2 linked regions of the Homo sapiens genome follow. The protein of the gene in region 1 interacts with the protein of each later gene in a biochemical or structural test. Each region holds a gene or a part of one and is shown in the gene's direction. Other genes may lie near its edges.

What was found.
Region 2: the proteins of ADNP (region 1) and KPNA4 interact in a test that uses a peptide from one of them, tested with the Homo sapiens proteins (one study listed by BioGRID).

What each region holds. Positions count from the first base shown.
Region 1 is NC_000020.11:50,896,605-50,900,640, reverse strand, and holds part of ADNP (activity-dependent neuroprotector homeobox protein), read left to right. Parts: intron 1-4,036.
Region 2 is NC_000003.12:160,494,507-160,497,039, reverse strand, and holds the end of KPNA4 (importin subunit alpha-3), read left to right. Parts: 3' UTR 1-2,033; downstream 2,034-2,533. UniProt on the Homo sapiens protein: Functions in nuclear protein import as an adapter protein for nuclear receptor KPNB1. Binds specifically and directly to substrates containing either a simple or bipartite NLS motif.

The sequences.
Region 1 (4,036 bases):
GACATTTTGGTCAGTGATGAACTACATCTACGACAGTGGTCCCATAAGAATATAATTGAGCTGAAAAACTTGCTACCTTATGACATCATAGCGCAACATATGATTCATGTTTGTAGTGATACTAATGTAAACACACCTGTGCTGCCAGTCATAGAAGTATAGCACATACAGTTATTTACAGCGTATAATACCGTCGTGCATTGCTTAATGATGGGATGCATTCTGAGAAATGCCCTGTTAGGTGATGTCATTGTTGTACAAACATCATAAAGGGTACTTACACAGACCTAGGTGGTATAGCCTCCTATTACCCCTACGCTATATGGTATGGCCTGTTGCTCCTAGGCTACAAACTTGTATGGCATGTTACTATAAGAGAATACTATATACTGAATACTATAAGAGTGATTAACACAATGGTAAGTATTTGTGTTTCTAAACATAGTGAAGCATAGAAAAGGTACAGTAAAAATGCAATATAAAAGAAAAATTGGTACACCTATATTGGGCACTTGCGGGACTGGAAGTTGCTCTGAGTGGTGACTGAATATGAAGGGACATTATTGTACATCACTGTAGACTTTATAAACACACTTAGGCTACATAAAAAGTAAAACTTTAAAATTCTTAACTTCTGAATCTTTTGTAATAACACTTAGCTTAAAACACAAACACGGCAACCTGCCCGGGTCCCCTTCCACACTGCGGAAGCTTTGTCCTTTCACTCTTCATAATGAATCTTGCTACCGCTCCAAAAAAAAAAAAAAAAAAAATTGTACAGCTGTATAAAAATATTTTGTCTTCATATGCTTACAGGCTTTTTCCTAGTCTTAAACTTTTTTTTTTTTTTTAACTTTTTAAACTGTTGTTAAAAACTAAGACACAGACATAATTAGCCTAGGCCTACACAGGGTCAAGATCAATGGTATTACCATTGCCACCTTCACAGCTTGTCTCACTGGAAGGTTTTCAGGAGCAGTAACACGCATGGAGCCATCATTTCCTGTGATGGCAGTGTCGTCTTCTAGATACCTCCTGAAGGATCTGGCTGAGGCTGTTTTAGAGTTAACTTTTTTTTAAAAAATATAGAAGTAAGTGGTACACTCAAATAATGATTAAAAACTCATTACCGGCCGGGCGCTGGGCTCATGCCTATAATCCCAGCACTTTGGGAGGCCGAGGCAGGTGGATCGCCTGAGGTCAGGAGTTCGAGACCAGCCTGGCCAACATGGTGAAACCCCCTCTCTACTAAAAATACGAAAATTCGCCAGGTGTGGTGGCAGATGCCTGTAATCCCAGCTACTGGAGGTTGGAAGTGGGAGCGGGGAAGGCAGGAGAATCGCTTGAACCTGGGAGGTGGAGGTTGCAGTGAGCTGAGATCGTGCCATCGCACTCCAGCCTGGGGGACAAAAGCAAGACTTCATCTCAAAAAAAAAAAAAAAACCTCATTACCAAAATCCTTGCATACTTAAGTCCCACAGTTGGCCCTGGAGAACCTGCATATACCAAAAGCTAGCCCTCTGTATAAGAGGGTTTGAGCATCCCAAGAATACTGTATCTTTGATCTACATTTGTTTGGAAAAAATCCACATATAAGCAGTTCAAACCTATGTTGTTGAAGAGTCAACTGTATAGTAAATACTAGGTGACAGAAATTTTTCAGCCCCGTTATAATCTTGGGGGAACATAGTCCCATATGCAGTCTGTACTAGACAGAAAACATCAGCACATGACTTCCTGATAATGACAGTTAAAAACCGTATTGCCAGTTTATGTATTTACTATATATACTTTTTATTTTAGAGTGTACTCCTACTTTTTAAAACAGCTTTTCATGGTAACTGGTAGCAGCCTCATACAGCTTGTGTTCACTGTGTCTCTTGATTGCATCATTCTTGTGCATGGTTTAATCTCATGGTATTTTGTTCATCATGGCCCCTAAGCATACAAAATCCATAATGTTGCCAGTAAGGGGCCATGTTGAGTGATTGACCTGGAAACAGAAGTGATTAAGGACTACGAAGGTGGAGAATCAGTGATGGTTATTTCTTGCCAGTCAGGCTTGTCCCATTTTACCATAGCTATGATCTTGAAGAACAAGAACAAAGTGACAGAAGCTGTTAAAGCATCTGCTTCATTGAAGGCAATGAGACTAACAAAAATTCAAGAAGGGCCTTTATCAGACACACACAAGCTTCTGATGACCTGGATTGAAGAGCAGACACAGGTGCACACGGTGCTGTGTACCTCTCAGCACCATGATGATCCCAAAGCAAAAAGTGTGTTTGAGGTGTTGAAAGAAAAGGCTGGACCTGGCTGTGATGTTGAATTGACTGCTAGTTCTGGGTGGTGTAAACAATTCAAGAATCGTTATTCATTACATAATGGGAAAGTGGTGAGTTTGTGAGTGCTGATGTAAAGGCAGCGGAAGAATTTTGGGAAACTCTAGATAAGCTGAGTCTGGAGGAAAATCACTTGCCAGAACAAATTTTCAATATGGATGAAACCTTTCTATTCTGGAAACAGATGCCTGAAAGGACTTTGATCCATGAGGTAGACCAAAGCAATGCCAGGCTTCAAGTCTTTTAAGGACTGGATGACAGTCTTGCTTGGGGGCAATGTTGCAGGCCACAAATTGAAACCCTTTGTGATTTGGCATGTTGAGAACCCTAGGGGCTTCAAGCATATCAATACACACACACTTGGCCAGTGCACTGCAGGAGATATAAGAAGTCGTGGGTGACCCTGCTCCTCTTTCAAGATGCCCTCCTGAATAGATATGCCTGCGAAGTGGAGAAGTAGTATTGAGAGAATAACATACCCTTCAAGCTTTTGCTTATTGTCGCTGATAAGCAAATGCCTCCTTTAAGTGGTGTTTTTCATCCCAGTATCAAACACCACCTCTTTGATCCAACTGATGGAGTTACAGCAGCTTTTAAGGCGTACTATCTGAGAAAGGCCTTTGTCCTGTCGTCGCAGCTTAGGGAGACACTGAGAAGATTCTGATACAATTCTGGAAGGATTGCAATATCTGTGACTGCATTAAGAATCTTGCTTGGGCTTGGGTTGATGTCATCAAGGAGTGTATGAATGGCATCTGGAAGAATACACTCAAGAGGTTTGTCCATGACTTAAAAGGATTTGCATAAATCACAAAGTCTGTGATTGAGATGGCAAACAACTTTAACCGGGGTGTGGATGAGGACAACAGGAGCTCCTAGAGGTGATTCCTGAGGAATTGACTGGTGAGGAGCTGTGGGAACTAGAACAAGTTCCCGCATAGGTGAAGAGGAAAGAGAAAAGGAAACTGCAGGAAAAGCAAAAGAAGAACCCTCAAGAAAATTCAGTGAAGGATTTAGCAGTGCAGACCTCAGCAAGCTCCTTAAGTCTGAAAACACGTGGCCGGGCTTGGTGGCTCACGCCTGTAATCCCAGCATTTTGGGAGGCCGAGGCTGGTGGATCATCTGAGGTCAGGAGTTCAAGACCAGCCTGGCCGACATGGTGAAACCCCGTCTCTACTAAAAATACAAAAAAATTAGCCGGGCGTGGTGGTGGGGCGCCTGTAATCCCAGCCACGAGGCTGAGGCAGGAGAATCGCTTGAACCCGGGAAGTGCAGGTTGCAGTGAGCCGAGATTGTGCCATTGCACTCCAGCTTGGGTGACAAGAGCAAAAAAACTGCATCTCAAACAACAACAAAAAAGTTTGAAAACATGGATCTCAATACCAAAAGGTTTTTATTAATAGAGAAGAATATTCATGGTTCATTATCTGCTTACAATCAAATCTATGATGAAAAAAGGAAACAAAGCACCGTGGGCTTATTCTTGGTAAGTGTGAGACCTCCTCAAGAAAAGCCTAAGGCAGGTCCTTCTGCAGTTATCCAGAAGAAGGCATTGTTACCATGGGAGATGGCAGTTCCATGTGTGTTACTGTTCCTGAAGACCCTCCAGTGGGACAAGATGTAAAGGTGGAAGATAGTGATACTGTTGATTCTGACTCTCTGTAGGCCTAGACTAACGTATGCGTTTGTGTCTT
Region 2 (2,533 bases), on another chromosome or scaffold:
ATTGATAAAAAACTAAGCACACCAATCATGTATAAGAAAAGTAGATTTAACATTTTTTTCCCTAAACACTTAACCCAGAAGTTAACAATAATCTTGAAAATTCCTTTTAAATCCAGGCCCTTTAGGTGATGGCAGTTTGACTCAGGATGTCCAAGTCCAGTGTATTTTCAATAAAATTGACTTGACAGCTACTGCTCTGGGTGTAAGAGCAGTTGACTGTGAGGAAAAGTAAATGGTTCTACAGATTCTTTATGATCTACCTCCCACCAGAGGACTGCAGTACTCCCTTGTTATTTATATTTTCTGCCCCAATTTTTGCCTTCTCCACAAATTTTATACCTTTTGTAGCTGCCTACTCCAGATTACTTCACCTTTCCAGACTATCAGTTCTTCCACTTTTATTCTTCATAAAGAAAATTCCAATAACCTGTTTCACTTAGGTTTTTCTATTACTCTTCAAGCATGAATCCTAATTTCCCTGACTATATCTTACCTCTGATCTCCATAACTGATGGATTCCTATCCTAGACTATGTTACTCTAATATTACCCAAGATTTTCTCCAGCCTGTTTTTACTCTTACTTTGAAACAGCTGTTTAAAATGACTCGTAATCTGCTTAAATCTACATGCTTTTTGTGGTTCTCAATCCAGTTACCTACCTTCCAGATAATTCCCTCACTGTCCTGTCCTCTCCATTCCTCTGATGTTTAAGCCCTGTGAGCCACCTTTCCCCCATCCTTTGTGCATAGTTACCATTTTACTCTTTCTTGTTGCCCAGGCAGGAATGCAGTGGTGCCATCTTGGCTCACTGCAACCTCCACCTCCTAGGTTCAAGCGATTCTCCTGCCTCAGCCTCCTGAGTAGCTGGGACCACAAGCGTGCACCACCACGCCCGGCTAATTTTTGTATTTTTAGTAGAGATGGGGTTTCACCACGTTGGCCAGGCTGGTCTCGAACTCCTGACCTCAGATGATCCACCCTCCTTGGCCTCCCAAAGTGCTGGGATTGCAGGCGTGAGCCACCGCCTGGCCACCATTTTACTCTTTTTAGGTACAGTAATCTAATATCCAAAGTCTTGGACTCAGCTAAAGAGGGTATTTACCTTAAAAAAAAAAAAAAAAAGACTCCATCTTTTGATTCATAATTGTGGTGGGGGCGGGGAATCAAGACAACCTTAGTCACTTTGGTATTACCATAATTCTTGTCTTTTCAGGGTTGTCCTGTTCAGCTGCATAAAACATCATGTATTCTAGGTATTTCCTACCTTCACTTACATTTTTACTTGCCGATGTGCTGCCTTCATAAATGGGTATATTCCGCCACACATCTAGTAAGCCCCCAATGCAGTACACAATGTGTATCACTGATAAAACTCGCACTTCTGCCATGTCAGTATTATATTCAGTTGAGTGGTCTTTAGCATAGTGGCAGTCCTAGTCATCCTAACCTTTTAGTTAAGGTAAAATTACATATGTTTATAGAACTCATATAGACAAGCTAGTTTTTAAAATCTTCCTTTTAACCAGTTTAGGATGATCTAGGATAGCTAAGTTACCTACATGGTGACTGTTCGGTCTAATTCAGAAACAGAAGTACTAAAAGAATACTAAAAAGTTTTTACCCATTATCTCTATCCCTGTTTTCTTTTTGCAATTCTCAGCTGCAGGGAGCAAGAAAATACACAGCAGATAGGAAATGTTTGTTTGCATCCTGGCTTTCTCAACCGCACTTTACGTCCTTGAATATTCTAGATATTTACTCCTTCAAGAAGTCAGGAGTATATCCAGGCCTACCTATCATCCTTGCCATCCCCATTAACCCTCATTTTTCAGTATGTGTTTTACATTTATGGTTATTTTTCAGTCTATAGTATCTGTTCACTCATTGCTCTATCACATCTGAGTTTCTCCGTCTTTCTTTCCACTAGATTGTAAGCTCCTTAAGGGCAAGGTCGGCATATAAGCAAAGTTCTGTAAACACCGTGAAGGTACCATGAGTTCTATGGGTACTCAATAAATGCTTGTGATAATGATGCAATTTCTCAGATGAACTGATTGTAGTGACTACCTCTAAAAGCCTTCAATCTACAGTTTTTAAATTTGTCTCATTGCATCTGAGTTTTAGAAAGCCTTCGATAGAAAGGGAAGATACTTCATAGCTTGCCAGATGAATGCCCATTTCCTTATTTCCTTTTCCTCACTTTTGATATTTTGCCCAGTGTCTGGTCTGGATATCTGACATCCATAAGGGTATTGAAATGGATCCTTGTGTGGTTTTCAGATACCAGTTATATATATTATGAAGCAGAGGTAACCTAATATTGTCTAACACTATTGATACAGTTTATATTTTGGAAATACTGTATGGATGATTTATTGAAATAACTTATAATAAGATATTTTACAAGGAAATATCCAAACCACAAAGTTAAGTGATTGCTGTTTTGGTCAGTCAGCTATAGTATGAAATTATTAGAATGCTTTGGTTTATTTATGTATGTGAAGTTATTTTATCCCTATGTGCTTCAGTTTC